Linked DNA regions of Homo sapiens: region 2 is linked to region 1. Evidence: fine-mapped expression QTL. A gene starts in region 1. The other region holds a variant in brackets. All regions are shown on one strand. Distances are between the middles of the regions.

Region 1 (11,370 bases):
CTCAAGCAATCCTCCTAAAAGTGCTGGGATTTACAGGCATGAGCCACCGCGCTCAGCCGAAAGATTTTTGTTTTTGGGTTTTTTTGTTGTTGTTGAGACGGAGTCTCGCTCTGTCTCCCAGGCTGGAGTGCAGTGGCGCCATCTCTGCTCACTGCAAGCTCCGCCTCCCGGGTTCACGCCATTCTCCTGCCTCAGCCTCCCGAGTAGCTGGGACTACAGGCGCCCGCCACCACGCCCGGCTATATTTTTGTGTGTTTTTAGTAGAGACGGGGTTTCACTGTGTTAGCCAGGATGGTCTCGATTTCCTGACCTCGTGATCCACCCGCCTCAGCCTCCCAAAGTGCTGGGATTACAGGCGTGAGCCACCGCGCCCGGCTTTTTTTTTTTTTTGAGACGGAATCTCGCTCTGTCCGCCAGGCTGGAGTGCAGTGGCGCCATCTCAGCTCACTACAACCTCTGCCTCCTGGGTTCAAGTGATTCTCCTGCCTCAGACTCCCGAGTAGCTGCGATTATAGGCGTCCACCACAAGGCCCGTTTGTATTTTTTAATTTTTTTTTTTTAGACGGAATCTTGCTCTGTCGCCCAGGCTGGAGTGCAGTGACGCAATCGCGTCTCACTGCAACCTCCGCCTCCCGAGTAGCCGGGATTACAGGCGCGTGCCACCACGCCCGGCTAATGTTTGTATTTTTAGTAGAGACAGGGTTTCACCATATTGGTCAGGCTAATCTCGAACTCCTGACCTCAGGCGATCCACCCGCCTCGGCCTCCCAAAGTGCTGAGATTACAGGCGTGAGCCACTGGGCCCGGCCGAAAGATGTTTTTTTTAAATTTAATTTAATTTTTGAGACGGAGTCTCTCTCTGTCGCCCAGGCTGGAGTGCAGTGGTGCGATCTTGGCTCACTGCAAGTTCCGCCTCCCGGGTTCACGCCATTCTCCTGCCTCAGCCTCCTGAGTAGCTGGGACTATAGGCGCCCGCCACCCCCGGCTAATTTTTTGTATTTTTTTTTCAGTAGAAACGGGGTTTCACCGTGTTAGCCAGGATGGTCTCGATCTCATGACCTCGTGATCCGCCCGCCTCGGCCTCCCAAAGTGCTGGGATTACAGGCGTGAGCCACCGCGCCAGGTCGAAAGATGTTTTTTAAAGCTCATTTGTGATGTAGCCTCTGTGGAAAATGGTATGACACTTCCGCAAAAACAGAAATGCCGTATGACCTAGTAATTTCACTTTGTGATGTATACTCTAAAAAAATAGAAAGCCTAAACTCAAACAGATATCTGTACACTCATGTTCATAGCTGCATTATCCACGGTAGCCAAAAGGAGGAAGGAACCAAGTGTCCATTGGCAGATGAATGGATAATGTGGTATATATGTGCAATGGAATGCTAATCAGCTTTAAAAGGAAGGAAATTTTGACACATGCTACAATAAGGATGAATCTTGAAGACATTAAGTGAAATAAGACAATTTAAAAAGGAAATATAAGGATGAATCTTGAAGACATTAAGTGAAATAAGACAATTTAAAAAGGAAATATTGCACGATTCATCTTATATGAGGTATCTAGAGGAGTCAAATTCAAAGACACAGAAAGTAGAATGGTGGTTGCCAGCGTCTGTGGGCAGAGGGGAATGGAGAGTTAATGCTGAATGGGTTCAGAGTTTCATCTGGGAAACAGGAAAAAGGACTGGAGACTGATGCACAACCATTTAAATGTATTTAATGCTACAGAACTGTACAGTTAAAAAGTGTTAAATTTTGTTGGGCATATTTTACCACAGCTTTAAATCCTAATTGTATCGCAAGATAATGGGTAGATAATGAACAGTGGAGCGCCCGCAAGAGTATTACACACACAGAAATGCAAGACTTCAGAGCAGATTATTTTCCTAAGAGCTGGTCTACTTATAATATATTTTTAGGTATGGCTAGTAGTCGTAGATTTAGGACTAAAACGACCAGTTGCCGCCCAACGTGGGGCTCGAACCCACGACCCTGAGATTAAGAGTCTCATGCTCTACCGACTGAGCTAGCCGGGCGCCCGATGACCGTATCTCAACAATTTTTCATTCTAGATCAGAGTCGGAGTGTATTCAACTGCGGGTTTGAACTTGGATTTATTTGGAGTGTGATAAAACTACTAAAGTGCCTCGGCTCCTGGGAAATTCAAACTCTGCCGTCAGTGCCTGACCGTCCCTCCCACTTACGTCCGTTTCCTGCCCCTTCTACCCTACCAGCGACCAAGCCATTTTCTACCCGCGATGAAGCTCACGGCACGGAGATGGAGAAACGTGCACCCTGACGCCACTGGAGCTCTCACCGTGTGGATTTTTTTTTTTTTTTTTTTTTTGACAGAGAAGACTCTCAAAAAATGGGCCTACCTTTCACCACGAACTGCGGCTCTGTCGCCCAGGCTGGAGTGTCGTGGCGCAATCTCGGTTCACTGCAACCTCTGCCTCCTGGATTCAAGCACTTCTCCTGCCTCAGCCTCCTGAGTAGCTGGGATTACAGGCGTGTGCCACCACTCCCGGCTAATTTTTGTATTTTTAGTAGAGACGGGGCTTCTCCATGTTAGTCAGGCTGGCCTCAAACTCCTGACCTCGTGATCCACCCGCCTCGGCCTCCCAAAGTGCTGGGATTACAGACGTGAGCTACCTCACCCGGTCAAGTACCGTGTGGATTTTAAAACAGGAGGGAAAGACAATGGGGCCCAGAGGAGGGCAGGGGCCGCCGCGGTCTTTTTCTACTCCGCAGACTCCACCCTCTGGGTTTTTTCTTGGAGCTCTTCAAACATGCTGGATTTCAAAATTTGAAAGGAAAATCGAAAACAATAATTGAATGTGCAAAACTACACTGGAGATGCCGGGGATCGAACCCGGGGCCTCATACATGCAAAGCATGCGCTCTACCACTGAGCTACATCCCCACCTACTCTCAGCAGCTCTCCCAGATGGTCCCTATTGGTCGCTTAACTCAGGACACCGGGAGTGGAAGGCAACCGGTACGCGCTGGGTCTCAGCCGCTGCAAAAACCCGGCATCGCAGGGCAAGAGTTGTTCCAGCGTCCTCCGCTGACTCCAAACCAGCGGGTCTTGACCAAGGGATTCCAAGAGAGAGGATTAGGCCCGGCTAAGCACCTGGGAGCAGCTGTGGAAAAAGGAGAGACAATCATCAGGCACGATGCCAAAAATGAACTGTGACCTGAAAAAGAGAAGAAAGGAAAATTGTGCAGGATGCTACGTTTTGTTTTTTAAAAGTGGGGGTTGAGGCAATAAAATACGGAATATTTGATTAACGTAATCCAGAATTGTAAAGTTGATTGCTCGGGAGGAAGAAAGGACTGGGACACAGGCGATGGGCCTACTTTCCACCGTGAACTGCGGCTCCTCTTTTGAATTTCGAACCAAGTTTAATCCAAGAAAACCTTACTGAGCTTGCCAAGAACTGCTCTAAAAACAGGATTCAGCCGTGAACAAACCTAGTACAGTCCATCTGAAAGCTGACATTCCAGAGGAGATAGAGTGCGGGCACAGAGCCGGCCCTGAGAAGGGAGCGCGCTAAGAGACGACTTTACACAGTGTGCGCGTTCGGGGCGGGCTTCGTGGGCAGAGACGTTTGAAACAAGACCTGAATGAGGTGGGAGGGAGCATGCAGGTGGTGGGAGAAAAGAGGTCCACGCAAGGGGAACAGCCAGCGCAGAGGCCACGGGGTTCAGGAACAGCAAGAAGATCGGGGACACTGGGTCCTGGAAGGCCCTGAGAAGGGAAGTCGGGAAGGAGGGAGCATCCGGGGGCAGATGAGGTGAGGCGAGGTCTTCGCCTTTGGGTGAGAATTGCTGAAGTTCCCGGTGACATTGGCAAGGGCGGTTTCTGAGGAGGGTGCGGGCGAAAGCTTGATCCAAGTGGCCTCCAGAGTGAGCGAGGAGAGAGGGTGTGGAAGCGGATAACACAGGCAGCTCTGCTGCGGGGCTGTGGAGACAGCTGGGGGACAAGAGAGCGCTGAGGTTTGTGTGTGTGTGTGTGTGTGTGTGTGTGTGTGCGGTGGGGGGGGAATAATACTGAATACAATGGGAAATTATAAATGTGTTATCTGTTCAAATACTAAGTAAAGAGTAAAGAAGCCGGAGGACAGTCGCAGAAAAGGTAATGGAATGGATACAAGGCCACGCTTGCGCGTGAGGGGACAGGACCAGGTTCCAGTCTCTAAATTTAACTCAGCACAGGGCCGGGGCGAACCTGCGCTGGCGGAACCTGACACCGTGGCCCGAGCGCCAGGCCCTTGCCCCGGCGATGCTGGGTCGGCCTCGGTCGGAAACCGGGAGTGGCGCTGGCAGCATTTGTGCGCCCACCTGTCGCGGCCCGTTTCCCGCGGCTGACTGGGTCAGGCTGGGGCGGCCTGGAGAGTCTGAGGGACGGGGGCGAGGGGGAGAGGCCGCTGGCCAGGGCGGGGGCTGGTGGAGCGCAGATCCGGGGCGCAGGGCGCTGTCCCGCACTTGAATGGCCCGTAGTCAACGTGCGCCTCCCCTCCCGGCTCCCAGCCGGGCGCGCCCCGGGCTCGAGTCTCTGCCTGCCCAGTGGCAGCCCCGCCCTTCCTCTCCCAGTGGGCCCTCGGCGCCCAGCTCCGCGTCCTGTGAGGTCCAGTGGCCGCCCAGGCGCGACCAGATCTGGGTGCGCGGAGAGCGCGCATGGCGGCTGTGGGACCGCGGACCGGCCCCGGAACCGGCGCCGAGGCTCTAGCGCTGGCGGCAGAGCTGCAGGGCGAGGCGACGTGCTCCATCTGCCTAGAGCTCTTTCGTGAGCCGGTGTCCGTCGAGTGCGGCCACAGCTTCTGCCGCGCCTGCATAGGGCGCTGCTGGGAGCGCCCGGGCGCGGGGTCTGTTGGGGCCGCCACCCGCGCGCCCCCCTTCCCACTGCCCTGTCCGCAGTGCCGCGAGCCCGCGCGCCCCAGTCAGCTGCGGCCCAACCGGCAGCTGGCGGCAGTGGCCACGCTCCTGCGGCGCTTCAGCCTGCCCGCGGCTGCCCCGGGAGAGCACGGGTCTCAGGCGGCCGCGGCCCGGGCAGCGGCTGCCCGCTGCGGGCAGCATGGCGAACCCTTCAAGCTCTACTGCCAGGACGACGGACGCGCCATCTGCGTGGTGTGCGACCGCGCCCGCGAGCACCGCGAGCACGCCGTGCTGCCGCTGGACGAGGCGGTGCAGGAGGCCAAGGTGAGCGCAGCCCCCACCCACCCCGTGGGTCCCCGGGACCCCCTGACTTGGTCCCGCGCTCCCGCGCACGGGGTGCAGAGAACAGCCTGTCGATCAGGAGGCCCGGGTGAGCCCCTCCCTTCTTTCTCCATTCCAGGAAGCCCAGCGCTGGTTCCCGGGCTGAGCGCGGTTCTCTGTCACCCCCAACATCACCAATACCCCCACCCCACCCCCACTGCGTTTCCCTCTGGGCCAGATACTGGGCCGCCTGCGCGACGTCCCCCACGGACTTGGCGATGTTCTTCCTGTCTGTTCGGAGCCTCTAGCCTGGTCTGCGTCTCCGCAGCTCTCTGCCCGCGGGAAGTCTCCGGCACAGCCACGCAGCCGCTGCCCCCACTCTTATCTCTTTCCCCGAAGCGGGCTCTGCTCAAAGTCCCCACCTCGTGGAACTGAGTGAGAGGACCTCGCCAAGATGTCCAGGGAGGGGGCTCCCGGGTTAAGCCGCGCACCTAGAGCCGTCTGACTGTGCCAACGCTGTCGATTCTGGGGGCCCTTTCTTTGCTATTTTCTCGCTGAGCCTCAGCGAGGGTGTGTGCAGGGGTGAGGGCGGGGCGGGGAGGCTCGGGCGGCAGTCCCCAGTCTCTCCTTGCTGGCCCATCCTGCTCCAACTCTCCCAGCCACGGGGCTTCCTGGTGGGGGGGCGGAGAGTAGAGGAGACGACTAGGGGTAGGGCTGCCGGAGCTTGTGTTTCAGTCTGGCTGGTCCAGCAGATGCTTTTGGGGAAGCAAGATCCCGAGACCTTCAGAGTCACCTCGCAGTGTAACCTGTAGCCTGTAGAGATGACTTCTACCCGGCCTCCCCCTCAGTGAGCAGGGCCTTCCCTTTCTCCTGGCTGGCTCCAGGAAGGCAGAGGTGGGGGTTTCCAGAAGCCCCTCACCCCCACCTTACATTGTTTCCCTTCATCTACAGGAGCTCTTGGAGTCCAGGCTGAGGGTCTTGAAGAAGGAACTGGAGGACTGTGAGGTGTTCCGGTCCACGGAAAAGAAGGAGAGCAAGGAGCTGCTGGTGAGCCAGGCACCCGCAGGCCCCCCGTGGGACATTACAGAGGCCTGAGAACTCAGCACCAGGGCTCGGTGTGTGTGGTGTTGGAGTGTGTGCTATGGAACCGCAGAATCGATTTCAGAAAGATAATAGAGTCCATATTATATAGGGTGTCCACATAATTGTTGTACAAACCAGAGCTTTTTAAAGTGAAAAGCAGTGCTAAAATAATTATTGCAAAACAACTGGCTTAAACTGGAGCTGTCCCAGCGAATCAGGACGCTCAGTCACTCTGATATTACGTAACATACCAGTTAGGGCCTGCGGAAGCATCTTGTAATGGAACACATTACTATTTCTGCAGAGAAACATGGATATTCAATAAGTGGGAATATTAATACAATAAAGAGCCTCATGGCATGTTTTGTCAACAAAACAGTAGTGAAAAAAATTTCATGTTCACAGTGTTTTTATTTGAAATCGAGGCTAACGGAGAAGGGGCTAGAGGGCGTCAGAGCTGCTCCCTGGCTCTGGCAGAGGGAGGAAGTTTAGGGTCTTGGGTTTACAGTAGCCCCTGCTGCACAGCCCAGGGTCTTGGGTACTGGCACCTGCCTCTACCCCAAGTTGGAATGATATTTTATCTTCCTTAGGGTAGAACAGGAAAGTGAAACGAGGGCTCATTTTGGTTAAGATAAGCAAACATGAGGCCTGGCAGGGTGGCTCACGCCTGTAATCCCAGCACTTTGGGAGGCCGAGGTGGGCGGATCACGAGGTCAGGAGATCAAGACCGTCCTGGCAAACACGGTGAAACCCCTGTCTCTACTAAAAATACAAAATAGCCGGGCGTGGTGGCGGGCGCCTGTAGTCCCAGCTACTCCGGAGGCTGAGGCAGGAGAATGGTGTGAACCCGGGAGGCAGAGCTTGCAGTGAGCCGAGATCGCGCCACTGCACTCCAGCCTGGGAGACAGAGCGAGACTCCACCTTAAAAAAAAAAAAAAAGATAAGCAAACATGAATCACCATCGGTCATTTTCTACCTTGCAAATTCAGTTCCTAGCTCAGTAAATAGGTGTTGAAAGAATAAAAGGATTGGCTGGGTGCGGTGGCTTACGCCCGTAATCCCAGCACTTTGGGAGGTCGAGGTGGGCGGATCACCTGAGGTTGGGAATTCCAGACCAGCCTGACCAACATGGAGCAACCCCATCTCTACTTAAAATACAAAATTAGCCTGCCGTGGTGGCACATGCCTGTAATCCCAGCTACTCGGGAGGCTGAGGCAGGAGAATCACTTGAACCCGGGAGGTAGAGGTTGCGGTCAGCCAAGATCATGCCACTGCACTCCAGCCTGGGCAACGAGAGTGAAACTCCATCTCAAAAAAAAAAAAAAAAAAGAATGAAAGGATCTACTAGGACCTGTCAAGGCAGGGAATTGAAGGAAGGTGAACTAGAGGACCCTCCCATCCTCAATGTCAGGAGGGGTGGAGGAGGAGCCTGGAGTTCAGACACCCTAGGGTCCTTTCCAGACCCTCAACTATATCTGTTATGCCTGCACCCAGTGTGCATCCCAGACCTTCCTACCTCATCACTCACTTTCCTCCATGAGGAAGAGCTCACCCTCTAGACCTTCATCCCTCCTCCACTGGAGAAATGACTCCCAATGCAGCTCTTCCCCCACTGGTTGACATCCAGGAACCAGAGGGCCTTCCCTGGCACCGGCGGCAGCTTCACAGTCTCTGACCGGAGTCCCCAGGCCTTGCTTAACACCTTCCACCTCTGTCCTCTCCCAACATCCATCCATCCACCCCCACATTCGTTTTTGTTGTTGTTTTGTTTTGCTTTGCTTTTAGACAGAGTCTCACTTTGTCACAAAGGCTGGAGTCGTTCAAGCGATCCCCCCACTTCAGCCTCCTGAGTAGCTGGGACTACAGGTGTGCACTACTACACCCGGCTAATTTTTAATTTATTTTTTGTAGAGCTGGGGTTGGGGGTAGTCTCCTGTGTTGCCCAGGCTGGTCTGGAACTCGTGGGCTCAAGCAACCTTCTCCCCTGACTTTGCCCCCCTCAGCCTCCCAAAGTGCTGAGATGACAGGTGTGAGCTCTACCTGTTCTTTGCAGCAATAAAATACTTCTGGATTTATGACACTTGTCTCATTTACAATACCCTGCTTAATGAAACATCAGAGGTAGAGCCCAACTATTGCTGCAACACAAAAGGGAGAAGGAATGCTCTTATTTGAAAATGCTCCTACCCCAGGGGACATCTGGCAAAGTCTGGAGATACTATATTTTTGGTTGTCAACAATGGGATAGGGATGCTATTGGCATTTCGTGGTAGAGGCCAGAGGGGCGGCTAAATGTCCTACAAGGCACAGGGCAGCCCCCTACAACCAAGAAGTATCTGGCCCAAAATGTCAACTGTGTTAAGGTTGGGAAACCCTGGCTTAGAGTATTTTGGCAAATACTGTTTCACTTGTGCTACCTCCTTGTGAGGCAACTGGCCGAGAAGCCTGGCTTAACACTTCCTGGTGATGTGTCTGTCTTTTGTCTCCTCACCTGTAAGACTTGAAGGGAAGTGCACCCTCCCCACTGGGCTGCCGTCAGGGTTGAGGGAGTTAATATCCATAAGGCGCTCCAGGCTACTGCAGCCTGCCTGGAAGCTGAAGGAAAGGTGGGGGCATTGTAGGACACCTTGAACCCAGGTCTCCCAACTTCACAGGACTCCCTTCCTCCGCCCAGGAGTTTTAAGGAAGAGGAACTTCCTGGTGGGACATATTGAGTGCCAAACGTGTGTTCACATAAAAAATCAAGAGATCAGGGCATGAGTCTGCATCTGAAAACTCGAGTAAAAAATCCGGTGTATGCTGTTAATGGAAAGAACAGAATATGACACTTGCATGCCGCATATTCTCACTTCGTTCCTTGGGGGTGTGCTGCTACCTCTGGTCACTGGCATCGGACTTTTCTTCCTTCTTTCTACTTTCCTACATCTCCCAAGTTTTGTATTTTGAGCATGTGTTAGCATTATAACTGCTAAACAGGAAAGATGGCCTTTAAAAAGAAAGTGAAGTGTAAAAGTTTGAGGGTGATGAAATAAATGTGCTTGAGGAAGAAAAAGCAATCTCAGTTTAATCCTATGGTTGCCCCAGGAGGCACTAATTTATCCCTTCTGCTTTTCAAGTGAGGAAGCTGCAGCTTGGCGTAGTTCTGGGGGGAGTATGAAGCTGCCTTGGTTTAGGTGATGGAGCACAGGTCCACAGACATGTGTGGGTGCATCTGTGGCAGGGGAGAAAAGAGCATGTGTCCAGACTACAGCTTGTTCAGAGCTGGGACACTGACAATAGAGCACGCACTGCGTGCGTAGGTGGGTGTGTCTCCGATCCTCCAGCAGTGACAGGGACGAAGCCTTGCCCTGTGGGATGACTCAGGCCACTGGCCAAATGTTATGTCTCCATGTTCAAGTCCCTCTCCAACTTCTCCTCCTGGGACAGAAACAGATGGCAGCGGAGCAGGAGAAGGTGGGGGCAGAGTTCCAGGCACTGAGGGCTTTCCTGGTGGAGCAGGAGGGTCGGCTGCTAGGCCGCCTGGAGGAACTGTCCCGGGAGGTGGCACAGAAGCAGAATGAGAACCTGGCCCAGCTCGGGGTTGAGATCACCCAGCTGTCCAAGCTCAGCAGCCAGATCCAGGAGACAGCTCAAAAGCCTGACCTTGACTTTCTCCAGGTAAGTCTGGCTCAGCCAGGGGCTCGAGTCATTTATCCTAAGGCATCAGGACCAGCAGCTAGAGAACAGTGTCAGTCCTGGGGGGTCTAGGAGAATCACATGATCTGGAGCTGAAGGGGACTGGAGAGAAGTGCCCTGATTTTCCTGGGGTTGGAGGTCTAGAGAGATGTGAAAACTTTCTTGACTATGAGCCACAATAATATATATCGTATTTCAGAATCACAAGCTTGAGACAAAAGTCTCAGAAAATAATACTCACCTTTGCTACACGTATGCACTTTGATGTTTTCTATTCTATTTCGCTAAAAAAAAAGTTATAAACAACTAGATAAACTTCACAATCCATAGATGGGTTAAGAACAGTCATTATGGGGCTGAGTGAGCAGTAGGTGCATAAGGGCTGTGACCTCCCTCAGGTGGTTTCCAGGACACACGCAGCACTGGGTCCCATGGGATAGCTCCAGTGATGATTCTGTAACTAAGAAAGCAGCAAAGATAGAAAGAAAGCACGTGAAGAGTTGTGGCAAAGGGTGAGAGGTCCACTGCGTGGGTGAGACACCCTGCAGCCAGCAGCCACTGGAAGCTGCTGCCCCTGAGGCCCACGCAGGCAGTGAGGCGTGGCACACTTGCTTATGCTTACATCTGGGAGGCACAGCAAGGGGCAAGCTTTGTTTCTCAGAGGTGAATGGAGGTTACCTGATGCTGATTTGGTTTCCTCTATCTTTCCTTCCAGGAATTCAAAAGCACGCTGAGCAGGTGAGTGACCTCACAGCTCCTGGGGCCTCTCTAAGTTGCTTCTTCCCTTTTCACTGAGCCTTGTCTTTATTCCCTGTCCCCTGACCTCTCACCTCCTGATCCCCCGACTTGCTTGCCTGGGGACCTTCCGAGACAAACGCCCACCTGCCTGGCCATGGGTTTTTCTGCATGAGGTCTGGCTCTCCCTTTTCTACCTCTTTCTGCCAAGAGGACCTCGCCATCCTAATTGTCACAGCCTGTGGGAGCAAAATGGTGCACACAGGCCCTTCTCAGAGCCCTTGTCCTGCAGGTGTAGCAATGTGCCTGGCCCCAAGCCAACCACAGTCTCTTCTGAGATGAAGAATAAAGTCTGGAATGTTTCTCTCAAGACCTTTGTCTTAAAAGGGATGCTGAAGAAGTTCAAAGGTAGGGGCCTGGGCGCCAAGCTGGGCCACATAGTGCGGTGGTGGTGGAGGGTTCCTGGTAGCTCAGGGGTCCCTGGGTGTGCTTTCCAGAAGCTGTGTGTGAAAATAGGAGCTGGCTGTGCCATGGCCAGATTGGTGTAGGGGCTGTGGTGGCAAATCTAGTCAGGCCCCCGCAGGGCATGCCGCTTCTCATGGGCACAGATGGGGTAGAGGGGTACTGCTGGGGGACTGGGGTTAGGAAGAGAGCTGTGCAGGGGAGCTCAGCTC
Region 2 (11,370 bases), 20 kb after region 1:
CAGGCGGTCCCCATAATCATCGAAGAGACAGGTGGATGAACCTCAGGCCTCGCACTCGGGGGCTCTCAGAGTCTGGGCGTTACAGCCGCTCCCGTACACTCACGGGTCACCTGGCTGAATCAGGTGGGATCTGGGTGAGGTGCCGGGAGGTCTCCCAGGCTGGCGCTCCTGTCCAGCTGCTGGGGGAGGCGTGGGTGCGAGGCTTGGGACAAGGGAGAGCTATGCCGGGTGGGGAGGACCCTTGGGGCGGGTCCGTTCACCTGAAATGTTCACTGCTGGAAGAGCCGAAAGCCAGCCACGGCACCCAGGGGAGTCCAGCGTGGAGAGGCAGAGAGGAGGGGCGAGGACAGTGGCGGTCGCAGACGGCGGAGCAAGATCGCCGAGCGTGCGAATGGAAAAATGAGCATTGTTTCCTCGGAGTAGCTTAACCACCATCCCACGCTGTTTTACAGCAGTGTAGGAAATGTCTCTGCTGGTGACACAAAAATAAACCTGTGCATCAGCTCTGAGTAGATTATCGCGAATTTTACAGCAGGAAACCGCATCACTATTTTTACTACTAAATAAACCAGTGCAATTAAAGTGCGCAGGGCGAGAGTAGGTCTGAGGCGAGAAAAGAGGAGCGCGCCCGCCCAGCTCGAGCCTCAGGCTTGCCCTGTGCTGGAGGCGGCCCGGGGGCAATCCCGGGAGAATGCTGCGAGGGCTGTGAGCCAGGACCCCGACTCTGCACCGCGGGAGCGCGCGCGCGTGGGTCCCAGCCTCCGAGCTGTGCAACAACCCCGTGGCTAGAGTCTCCACGAGAAGACAGAGTTCCTGGTCATCGGTCGTTTCCGCCTTACACTTTCCTACATTTCCTGAAGATTTTGCAAATGGGTATGCACTGTTTATTATCTTTTCATAAAACGGTAAGAGCGGCTTCTGGGGGCTCCTCACCCAGCCGGTCCGGCGTTCCTTCCCTCTCAGCACTGCGCTCTCTCCCGAGCCCTCCGGCTCTACCAACCTCTGTGTCCTGCCCCTGGGCCTCAAGATTTGCGCCTTTCTTGGACTCGCTTGGGAAGGGGCGCCCAGGCTGCAGAACGGATGGACGCTCCTGCCTGCTACTCGAGTGGATCGAGCAGGGAGGCGCTCATTCGGATTCCAGGAGACCAGAGGACACAGGACATAGGGAGCGTTTACCCTGTGTGGAGCTACCTGCGGCTGAGAATTAGTGGCAGACGCGGAGATGGGCAGCGGGGACAAGTTGGGCTTGGGAGACTATAAGACCTTGAGAATGGGTTCAAGCTGCCAGACGGAAATCCGCCTTTTCGGTGAATCGAGCCATGAAGAACACAATCATGAAAAGATTCAGCGAGCAACTAGACAGCCGGCTCGTTGGTCTAGGGGTATGATTCTCGCTTTGGGTGCGAGAGGTCCCGGGTTCAAATCCCGGACGAGCCCACTTTTTCATTTTTTTTTTTCCATTTCAACTGAAGTTCTTCTTGTTCAAATCCTGGATGAGCCAGCTTTTTAAATTTCAACTAAATTTTGTGTTACCTTGACAGTTTTGATCCCGAAAGATGTCCAGCGGAGGCATCACCAAGATTTCCGGGAGTGCTGGGGATTGGAAAGAATCGTGGATAGGAGACTAAGCGAGCCGTCCCGGAAGCAACAGTTGCTGTGAAGACTTTGGGCACAGACCTGCACGTGAGAGTATGCTCTTGAGGGTTGTGGGGGCTCTCCTTTTACAGCTAGGGATCACTTGTCGAACGTACCCGGAGAGTAGCTGCTAGCAGACAATATTATGGCGACAGAGGTAGGTGTGGGTTTCCGTAGTGTAGTGGTCATCACGTTCGCCTAACACGCGAAAGGTCCCCGGTTCGAAACCGGGCGGAAACATGCCACAGTGTTTTTTTTTTTTTTCCCCCCCCTTTCTTTTGAGATGGGGTTTCGCTCTTGTTGCCCAGGCTGGAGTGCAATGGAGTGATCTCGGCTCACAGCAACCTCCGCCTCCCAGGTTCAAGCCATTCTCCTGCCTCAGGCTCCGGAGTAGCTGGGATTACAGGCATGCGCCACCACGCCCGGCTAATTTTGTATTTTTAGTAGAGACGGAGTTTCTCCATGTTGGTCAGGCTGGTCTCGAACTCCGGACCTCAGGTGATCCGCCCACCTCGGCCTCCCAAAGCGCTGGGATTACAGGCGTGAGCCACCGCGCGCGGCCCCGAAGCGGTTATTATCTCATTACACGCTCTTATTACACTGGAGACTAACCTAGAAGATCCCACTAGTATGTCCACCTGGTGGTCACAGCGGCACAAAGAGAAGAGGGCATCTACGCTTTTGCTTTCCATTCCCAACCACCCGCACCTGTGAACTCAATCCAGTTTTACTTGCTGTGGACAAGCTCGGCACAGAGCTCATCCACTGGACAGCGGCACGCTGCCAAATGGAACCCCGCATCTCGAGTATGTGTGGGGCCCATTACTCCTTTTGTAACCCATAGGGGACAAAAGTGACAAAACTACCACAAACTGGCAGCGGTGGGATTCGAACCCACGCCCCCGAAGAGACTGGAGCCTTAATCCAGCGCCTTAGACCGCTCGGCCACGCTACCTCTTTGCCGCTGGGTATTTACATATTTTCCTTCAGTTATGAAGCGTGCGAAGGGGCTCTGGGCCAACAGGGAGTTGGGGCGAATCCACAGGGCAGGACCATGGCAGGATCCGCTCCGCCAAAGCCACTGGCTGGGAAACGGCTCCACCAGTGCCCTGACACAGGATTCTCAATGCCCAGGCCTCAGGATCTGCTTTAGGAAGGCCAGTCATAAAGCCACCCTCTTTGGGGAATGCACTCCAGAGCAGGGGAAGACTTCGACACTCTCACTTCAAAAAATCAAAAACAAATACAATGAAAAATAAAATAAAATAAAAACCTAAAGAAAAACAAGCAAAAAACCCCAGCCTGGGCAACATGGCGAAACCCTGTCTCTACAAAAGATGTAAACATTAGCCGGGCGTGATGGTGTGTGACCATAGTCCTAGCTACTCAGGAAGCTGAGCCCAGGAGGTCGAGGCTGCAGTGAGCCGAGATCGCCCCACTGCACTCCAGCCTAGGTGACAGAGCAAGACCCTGTACCAAAACCAATCAAACAAAAACAAAACAAAACAAACAAAAAGCCCCAACAACAACAAAGCAGACAACAAACTGAGAGTATGTATTGACTTTATGAGTCATGAGCAGAAACGTTCTTAGCAACTTCATTCATAATAACTCACTTATGGAAACAGTCCAAATGCCCACCATCTTCACATTGGATAAATAAAATTGTGTACAGTCTTATTTTATTTTATTTTTTTATTATATATATAGTCTTATATGGGATTATTATAACACTGATAATGAGCTTACTGCTGCAAACAGCATGGACGGATTTCACCGTCATCAATGTTGAGCAAATGCAGCCAGACACCAACGATCTGCATTCTATTGATTCCACATATGACATTCACACACGAGCCAAACTAATCTATGGTGACAGAAGTTAAAAATCCTGTCACTTGGGAGAAGGAGGTGCAGGTACTGACTTGCAAGGGACATGAGGAATTTTTTGTAATGCTGGAAATGTTCCTTTTCGATCTGGATGATAGGTACACACGTGTATTCAATTCCATGCGCACTTAAGATCTCTGTACATATGAAATCTTTACACAGTACAGATATATCTGTATGAAAATTGTTTCTTAAAACATGACTTTCTTAGTTGGAAAGGCTATTGTTTTAGATTTTACTGGTGTGTAACAAATTACCACACACTTAGTGTCTTAAGACAGCACAGATTTATTATCTCGCTTTTTGTGGAGTACAAGTTAGCAAGATCTTCTACTGATACCGCAGCAGGTGACATCACAATGTTGGCCATTGCTGCAGCCTCATCTGAGGCAGGGGGGTTCTCTTCCAGCCTCCCTGGTTGTTGACAAAATGCATTTCTTTGTGGCTGTGGGACTGAAATCTCCTGTTTGCTTGTTGGCTGTCAGCTGAGGGCCACTCTTGGCAACCAGAGGCCCCTTTCCTTGAGGCCAGCGGTGCACGGTGTTTCTGGAACTCCACCTTCTTTTAAAGGGCTCACCTGATTAAGTCAGGCCCACCCAGGATAATCTCCCTTTTGATTTATCAAAATCAACTGACCAGGAACCTCAATCACAGCTGCGCAATCCTTTGTTCCGTAAAATGTGGCATGGTTGTGGGAGTGACATGCCATCACGTTCACTCATAGGCAGGTGGTCTACAGGGCGTGTGCGCCGGGTGGGAATCTTAGGGGCCACCTTCGAGTTCTCTCTATGACAGTTTCAGGCCAGAGAACCAAATACGGTAGAGCCTCCCAGCAGAAACGCCTTTCCAAGTTCCTTACCTGTCTTTGTATTTGTAACTTGTTGAAAGAAGCCCCTGGGAGGGGATGAGGGGTCCTGTGCTTCCTCATTGCTGTGTGGCCACGCTGGCTTCCTGTGTCCACTTGGCATCCTCAGGCTAGGTGGGCATCCCGTTGTGTTGCAGAGTGATCGGGAGACAGAGGCCGCCTCTACCAGCGCTCAGCCCCCGAGGCGCTCCTGGAGCACGTGCCAGGCTCTGTTCGGTCCCCTCCAGCCTGTTCTTTCAGTTCCGGAGGATTTCCTATTTCTACGTTTAGACACTAAACCTTTTTCATTAACATGTGCTCACTGTGGAATAATTAGACACACCTAAGAAGAAAAAGTAGAGTAAATGAGCTTAAAGAACATAAAAAGCGTCCTCAACCATGCCACACATATTGCTATTATTTTGTTTTAGAGCTTTTAAGACTATTTTCATGGATACTTTAACTTATTTGTCTTATATTTATATATATATATTTTTGAGGCAGGGGTTGGGGGTGGTTTACGCAGTTTAGCCCAACCTGGGCTCAACCTCCTGTGCTCGATCCATCCTCCCGCCTCAGCCTCCTGAGTAGCTGGGATTACAGGCGTGTGCCACCCTACTCAGCTCGACAAGCTATGTTATTTACTTATTTACATTTACATATTTATTTATTTTTCAAACGGGGTCTTGCTCTGTCACCCAGGTTGGACTGTAGTGGCACAAACACAGCTCACTGCAGTCTCGACCTCCTGGGCTCCAGCGATTCTCCCACCTCAGGCTCCGGAGCAGCTAGAACCACGGGTGCGTACCACCACGCCTGGCTAATTTTGGTATTTTTTGTAGAGACGAGTTTCGCCATATTGCCCAGGTTGATCTCGAGCTCCTCTTGCCTAGGCCTCACAAACTGCTGGGATTGCAGGAGTGAGCCACCGCGCCTGGCCGAGCTCTTTTTTTGTTGTTTTTTGGTTTTTTTGTTTTGTTTTGTTTTGTTTTTGTTTTTGTTTTTGAGACGGAGTCTCGCTCTGTTGATCAGGCTGGAGTGCAGTGGTGCGATCTCAGCTCACTGCAAGCTCCGCCTCCC[G/A]GGTTCACGCCATTCTCCTGCCTCAGCCTCCCGAGTAGCTGGGACTAGAGGCGCCCGCCACCACGCCCGGCTCATTTTTTTGTGTTTTTAGTAGAGACGGGGTTTCACCGTGTTAGCCAGGATCGTCTCGATCTTCTGGCGTCATGATCCACCCGCCTCAGCCTCCCAAAGTGCTGGGATTACAGGCGTGAGCCACCGCGCCCGGCCCCGAGCTATGTTTTAATAAGAATACTTTGCATTGTGTTTTGTAACTTGCCTTTTAAAAAGTACTTAACTTCGCTGGAAAGATTCCATAGTAAAAAGAAAAAGAAAAAAATACTCAACAAAGGTACTGTGATGCCACTCATTCCTACATTTTATTTTTCGCCTTTATGAAATTGTAAACAAAGAGCCACAGGCCGCGCTGGGGTAGGGGAGGGGTCGCCCTTCAAAACGCCACCAGGGGACCCCATGGCCGTGTTTTTTGTTAACCGTTCACAGCTCCCTCTAGGAACCTTCAGATGCTCTATGATGAGTGCAGTTTTCCGCGACTCTTTCAAATTCTTGGGTCGCCGCCGCACACGTGACCGCTCGGGGGCGCTCAGGACTCCACCGCGGCGCGGCTCTGGTCCTGGCGGGGGCGCGATGCAGGCTCGGCGCTGTGCAGATCGCGCCGCCCAGGGTCCCTCGCCCCGGGATCTCGGCGCGCAGGTCTTGCAGCGCCAGACGCAGCGGAGCCCGGGCCCAGGGCTGCAGGAGGAGAGGGGACCTGGGCCCGCCGGAACTCCCTGTATACCACAACCAGACCGCAGCAGGATTGGTATCAGCGGGAAGAAGAAAACAGCCCACAACACCATTTTCATTGTTCCAGTGTTTGGAAGAACTCTAGATATCTAAGCAGCCACTGTTGTTGAACATTTAGACTCAGATTTTTTTTTTCCCCCCATTGCAAGATTATCCTTGTGGCTCAATCTCTGTATAACATCATAATGATTATATAGAGAAATAAATATCTAGTGTAGTTAATGGGCCAAAATTCTATATATTTTTTTCTTTTTTTGAGATGGAGTCTCGCTCTGTCGCCAGGCTGGAGTGCAATGGCGTGATCTCCGCTCACTGCAAGCTCCGCCTCCCAGGTTCAAGCGATTCTCCTGCCTCAGCCTCCCGAGGAGCTGGGACTACAGGCGCCCGCCACCGCGCCTGTGGTGTGTTTTTACGCCTGGTGTTTTTCACGCCTGGCTAATTTTTGTATTTTTAGTAGAGACGGGGTTTCACCGTGTTGGTCAGGCTGGTCTCGATCTCCTGACCTCGTGATCCGCCCGCCTCGGCCTCCCAAAGTGCTGGGATTACAGGCGTGAGCCCCCGCGCCCGGCCGGGATTATCGTGTTCTTGCGGCTGAGTGGTGCTCTGCTGCGCATCCACCTCGGTGCCTCCGCCCACTCCTGCACCGACGGCCGCTGCCTTTGCTCGCAGATCTGGGCTATTGTGAACAGCGCTGCGGTAAACGTGGCGGCACAGACATCTCTCGGGCAAACCGAGGATGCGATACGGATACTTCCTCCGTCATTTCCACTCCCCTTTCTCCAGGCCCTGAAGCTCCGTCTCCACGCCCGAACTCGTGGCCTCCCATTCCCCAGGCAGCTTCTCCCGAATGTCCCCTCTCAGAAACCGGTGCCAGCGCGTCCCCGCTGTGCCACCCCCAAGCCCACTGCCAACCCCGCACAGTTCCGCGTCCGCCGTCTCCTCTCCCTGCGGTCGCTGCCACACCCTCTCGTCCGGTCTCCCATGCCCCCTTATGCTACCGCGTCGGGCATGAAAACTTCCTTTTCTTTCTTTTCTTCTTTTTGTTCAAGACGTTTCCCTCTGTCACCTAGGCCGGAGCGCAGTGCTGCGATCACGGCTCACTGCAGCCTCCACCTCCTAGGCTCAAATGAGTCTCTTACCTCAGCCTCCCAAGTAGCTGGGACTACAGGCATATGCCACCACACCTGGCTGATTTTTATTCTTCTATGTTTCAGTAGAAATGGGGTCTCCGTACGTTGTACAGGCTGGTCTGCAACTGCTGGGTTCCGGCGATCCTCCTGCCTCAGCGTTCCAAGTCTGGTAGTTCCTTTTCTTATGTGCTCAGCCCCATTAGCCAAGCTTAAAGGGACACATGGACAAAGCTCAGGATTATAATCAGAAATAGAACAGGGCTGGGTGCGTCGGCTCACACCTGAAGTCCCAGAACTTTTGGGAGGGAGAGGTGGGTGGATTGATTGAGTCCAGGTGTTTGAGACCAGCCTGGGCAACATAATGAGACCTTGTTTCTATTTATAAAAACGACAACAACAGGAGAGACACTTGCCACGGGTGACAGGAGACCAGGAGAAAACCAGAAGGAGAATGTGGAGTCCCAGCATCCGCTGTCCTGAGAGCCTGAGGGCCTCCTCCAGGAACTGCACCTTCGCAGGGACCCGGCACTTCGCACTCTCTCCCCGGACACCGCGGGCGGATGTGTGCACAGACTTAAGGCCCCCAAACCCTCTTTTAGTGGATGCTGTGGATGATTTCTCATCTTAGTGCACACTCTCATAAAACACCCGCTCACTAAGATGAAGACGTTCTTAGTTATGCTCGTAGCACAGTCATGCCCACCTCATGCAAGTCACATCTGCAGACTTAGTCCCTGATTGCACGTCTACCTATGCTGCCACTTGACCTAATTATAGGCCACAGTCAGAAGGAACCTCTTGCTGTTGGCGCCATCTCCTGCCTGTAGGCGGAGGTGAAGGCCTGGCCCCGAGAAGGCCGAAAGATTCCCTTTCCTAGGAGGCGGGGATAACAGGGGATCTGTGAATCTGGGTGGGAACAATAGCAGAACTCATGTTTTTCCTAATCACGAACTGAAAGAGGGTTTTCCATTCAGAAAGGAGGCTGCAATCCACAGTAGAATTAACACGACCTTTATTGCTAATGGAAATCACAGATGCGGCTGAGGCGGGAGGATCGCAGGAGCCCCAGAGGTGGAGGCTGCAGCGAGCCAAGGTTGTGCCACTGCACTCCAGCCTGGGCAGCAGAGGCAGACTCTGTCTCATACACCAGCAAAACACAAAGAAATCACAGGTCCTTTCATATCACATGTCAAATCATAGTTCTTGTAGGCACTTTGAAATATCACTTATGCTCATTAGTACTTAAAAATTATGGTAATTGTCCTGGCAGTGTGACTCACAGCTGTAATTCCAGCTATTTGGGAGGCCAAGGTATTTGAATCGCTTGAGGCCAGGAGTTTGAGACCAGCAAGGGCAACATAGGGAGACCCCATCTCTACAAAAAATGCAAAATATTAGCCAGAAATGGTGGCATGCACCTGTAGCCCCAAGTACTTGAGAGGCTGAGGTGGGAGGATCCCTTCAGCCCAGGAGGTCATGGCTGCAGTGAGCTAGGTTCTTCCCACTGCTCTCCAGCCTTAGCAACAGAGCAAGACCCTGTCTCAAAAAACCAAAACCAAAAACAAACAGAAAGAAAGCATTATTCTGAGAAGGAGTCCATAACTTTCACCAGACTGGTAGTCCATGGCCACCCATCTTTAAAAGGGCTCAGACTCGGCTGGGCGTGGTGGCTCACACCTGTAATCTCAGCACTTTGGGAGGCTGAGGCAGGTGGATCACTGGAGGTTAGGAGTTCAAGACCAGCCTGACCAACATGGTGAAACCCCGTCTCTACTAAAAATACAAAAAATTAGCCAGGCATGGTGATGGGTGCCTGTAATCCCAGCTACTCAGGAGGCTGAGGCAGGAGAATCACTTGAACCTGGGAGACAGAGGTTGCAGTGAGCTGAGATGATGCCACTGCACTCCAGCCTGGGCAAAAAGAGTGAAACCCTGTCTCAAAAAAAAAAAAAAAAAAGCCTCAGAGTCTTGCAAATAGTACAAAAGAGTTGTGGGTCAAAGGTGGAACATGAAGTCCCCCTTTGATAAATGAGTGAGTGACTTTCGGAGAACCAAAAGCCCCACAGATCCAAGAGTAGTCAAGTAGGGCTGCTAGAAGAGCCCCATGCTTGTGAGTCAGGAGGGAGGTGCTGGTGGCCTCATCCAGGGCACTGTCAGGGGACAGGTTGGTGACAGCTGAGGTGCCACCTGGGACTGGCCAGGGCCAGAGGTGATTGAACTTTTGCAACGGATGTCCCCAGCTGAGAGTGAGGACTGTGCAGGGTTGGCTTGTTGAATCAATGAAGGATTATTACCAATCATATATTTTCTTTCCATTCATTCATTCATTTATTTATGTGCCTAACTCCTGTCCCACATCCTGTCTAGGTGCTAAGGGGACAAAGGTTCCTGGCCTCAGCACACTCTCAGATTCACAGGGAGACAGAACTGAGACTGAGAGCTGGTTCCTCTCCCTCTCTCGTGGGGATACAGTGAGAAGGCAGCTGGGCAGAAATCAGGAAGAGGATCCTTACCAAGAACTGCAGTGTGCTGCACCCTGATCTAGACTTCCAGCCTGCGAAACTGTGAGAAATCAATGTCATTGTTTGAGCAGCCTGGCATATGGTATTGTGTTACAGCAACCCGAACCAAGACAAAGGTTCTCAGCTGGGGAGACAGAAACTCATCTGGAGCCTGCACTCCCCCTGGGGAGGGGAAGATGCCTGTCGACCTGGACAGAGGGCCTGGACAGAGGCAGCCCTGGGCTGAGTTGGCCCTTGCTTGCCGCTTCTCCTTGGGAGCACTGGGACAGGATCCCAGAAGGTTCCAGAATGCATGTCAAGCAAGCAGCAGTCCCTGTGGAGTTTGGGGTAACATGCACAGAGGAAGAAATGGCGGAAAAGCAGCATCAGGATGGCTTTAGGGCAGGGAGCTGCTGGAAGGTGGCAGACAGAGTGAGCAGGGGCAGGAGATGGGCCAGCGAGGCACCCGCTGACATGGAAGTGCCGTCATGCGCTGCACAGCAACCTTCCAGGCAAGGAGGGACACGTGCATGACAGTGGTCCCATGACTATGATGGAGCTGAAGAATTCCTATGGCCTAGGGATGTCATAGCCGTGGTACTGTCGTAGCACAGACGTCACTCGTGGGAGCGATGGGCTATGCCACCCAGCCTAGGGGTAAATGAGGTGCACCTTCCAAGAGCCACCTAATCACCATTTCCCAGAATGCATCCTTGTTGTTAAGGGGCCCGTGACTGTATGTCTTGGGAAGCAACACGTGACTGTTGTCCCGCCCTGCACTGACTGCCCAGCGAGCGCTCAGAATGCATTAGATATGGGGTGGACAGAGGAGGAGGACAGCACCAGCACCCAGACAGCAACTTCCCTTGGAATCACCATTTCCTGAACCAGGGGATCTCCCCAGCCACCCACACCAAAGCCTAAACTCTCATACCTCCTCTCTCTAAAGCAGGGGTCTGCAAGCTTTCTCTGCAAGGGCCACGTACAGAATCTTTTCAGTTTTGTCGGAAGTACCCACGTCTGCCCTTTTGGTGCCAAAGCCAGTAAAGGTGACACATAATGAGAGGGAGGCGCCGTGTGCCAATGGGACATGTGTGCCAATGGGACTTGACTCACAGACACCAACATTTGAATTTCATCTAATTTTTACATGTCATGAAATATTATTCTTTTTATTTTTTTAACCAGTAAAAAATGTTCTTAGCTCGCTGGGCTGGAGAGAAATAGGTTGCAGGCTGGATTTGGCCTGAGGGTAGTTTGCTGACCAAGGGAAAGGGAAAAAACCAAACTTGCTCTAACCCACCTCTCTCCCTCCAGTCCCATGCAGTCCCACTTTCCTTATTTTTTTATTTTTTATTTTTATTTTATTTTATTTTTTTGAGACAGGGTCTTGCTCTGTCGTCCAGGCTGGAGTGCAGTGGCACGATCTCAGCTCACTGCAATTCTCCTGCCTCAGCCTCCCAAGTAGCTGGGACTACAGGCGCCCGCCACCATGCCCGGCTAATTT

The links. PIP is the estimated chance that this variant, and not a neighbour inherited with it, causes the effect. A credible set is the group of variants that fine-mapping cannot tell apart.
Region 2: its variant is the best candidate, but not a certain one, in a credible set for the expression of TRIM7 in whole blood (INTERVAL, PIP 0.84).

The regions. Positions count from the first base shown.
Region 1 is chr5:181,198,424-181,209,793 of GRCh38, reverse strand. It overlaps TRIM7 (tripartite motif containing 7), which reads left to right and starts at 4,598. Exons shown (of 7, transcript NM_203293.3): 1 at 4,598-5,205; 2 at 6,154-6,249; 3 at 9,713-9,943; 4 at 10,677-10,699; 5 at 10,989-11,104. The coding sequence starts at 4,684. TRIM7-AS1 (TRIM7 antisense RNA 1) reads right to left here and starts at 9,719. Exons shown (of 2, transcript XR_001743050.3): 1 at 8,778-9,719; 2 at 6,677-7,206. TRA-TGC3-1 (tRNA-Ala (anticodon TGC) 3-1) reads right to left here and starts at 2,926; the gene lies at 2,855-2,926. TRK-CTT2-2 (tRNA-Lys (anticodon CTT) 2-2) reads right to left here and starts at 2,039; the gene lies at 1,967-2,039. RefSeq lists enhancers at 1,686-1,775, 2,156-2,215 and silencers at 2,916-3,015, 4,320-4,639, 4,900-5,229, 5,270-5,339, 7,151-7,445.
Region 2 is chr5:181,178,921-181,190,290 of GRCh38, reverse strand. It overlaps TRL-AAG2-1 (tRNA-Leu (anticodon AAG) 2-1), which reads right to left and starts at 2,590; the gene lies at 2,509-2,590. It overlaps TRV-AAC2-1 (tRNA-Val (anticodon AAC) 2-1), which reads left to right and starts at 1,803; the gene lies at 1,803-1,875. It overlaps TRP-TGG3-1 (tRNA-Pro (anticodon TGG) 3-1), which reads left to right and starts at 1,366; the gene lies at 1,366-1,437. RefSeq lists enhancers at 1,425-1,634, 5,379-5,879 and silencers at 1,685-1,884, 2,475-2,604, 5,446-6,113, 6,067-6,276. The variant G/A (reference allele first, on the strand shown) is at 5,450.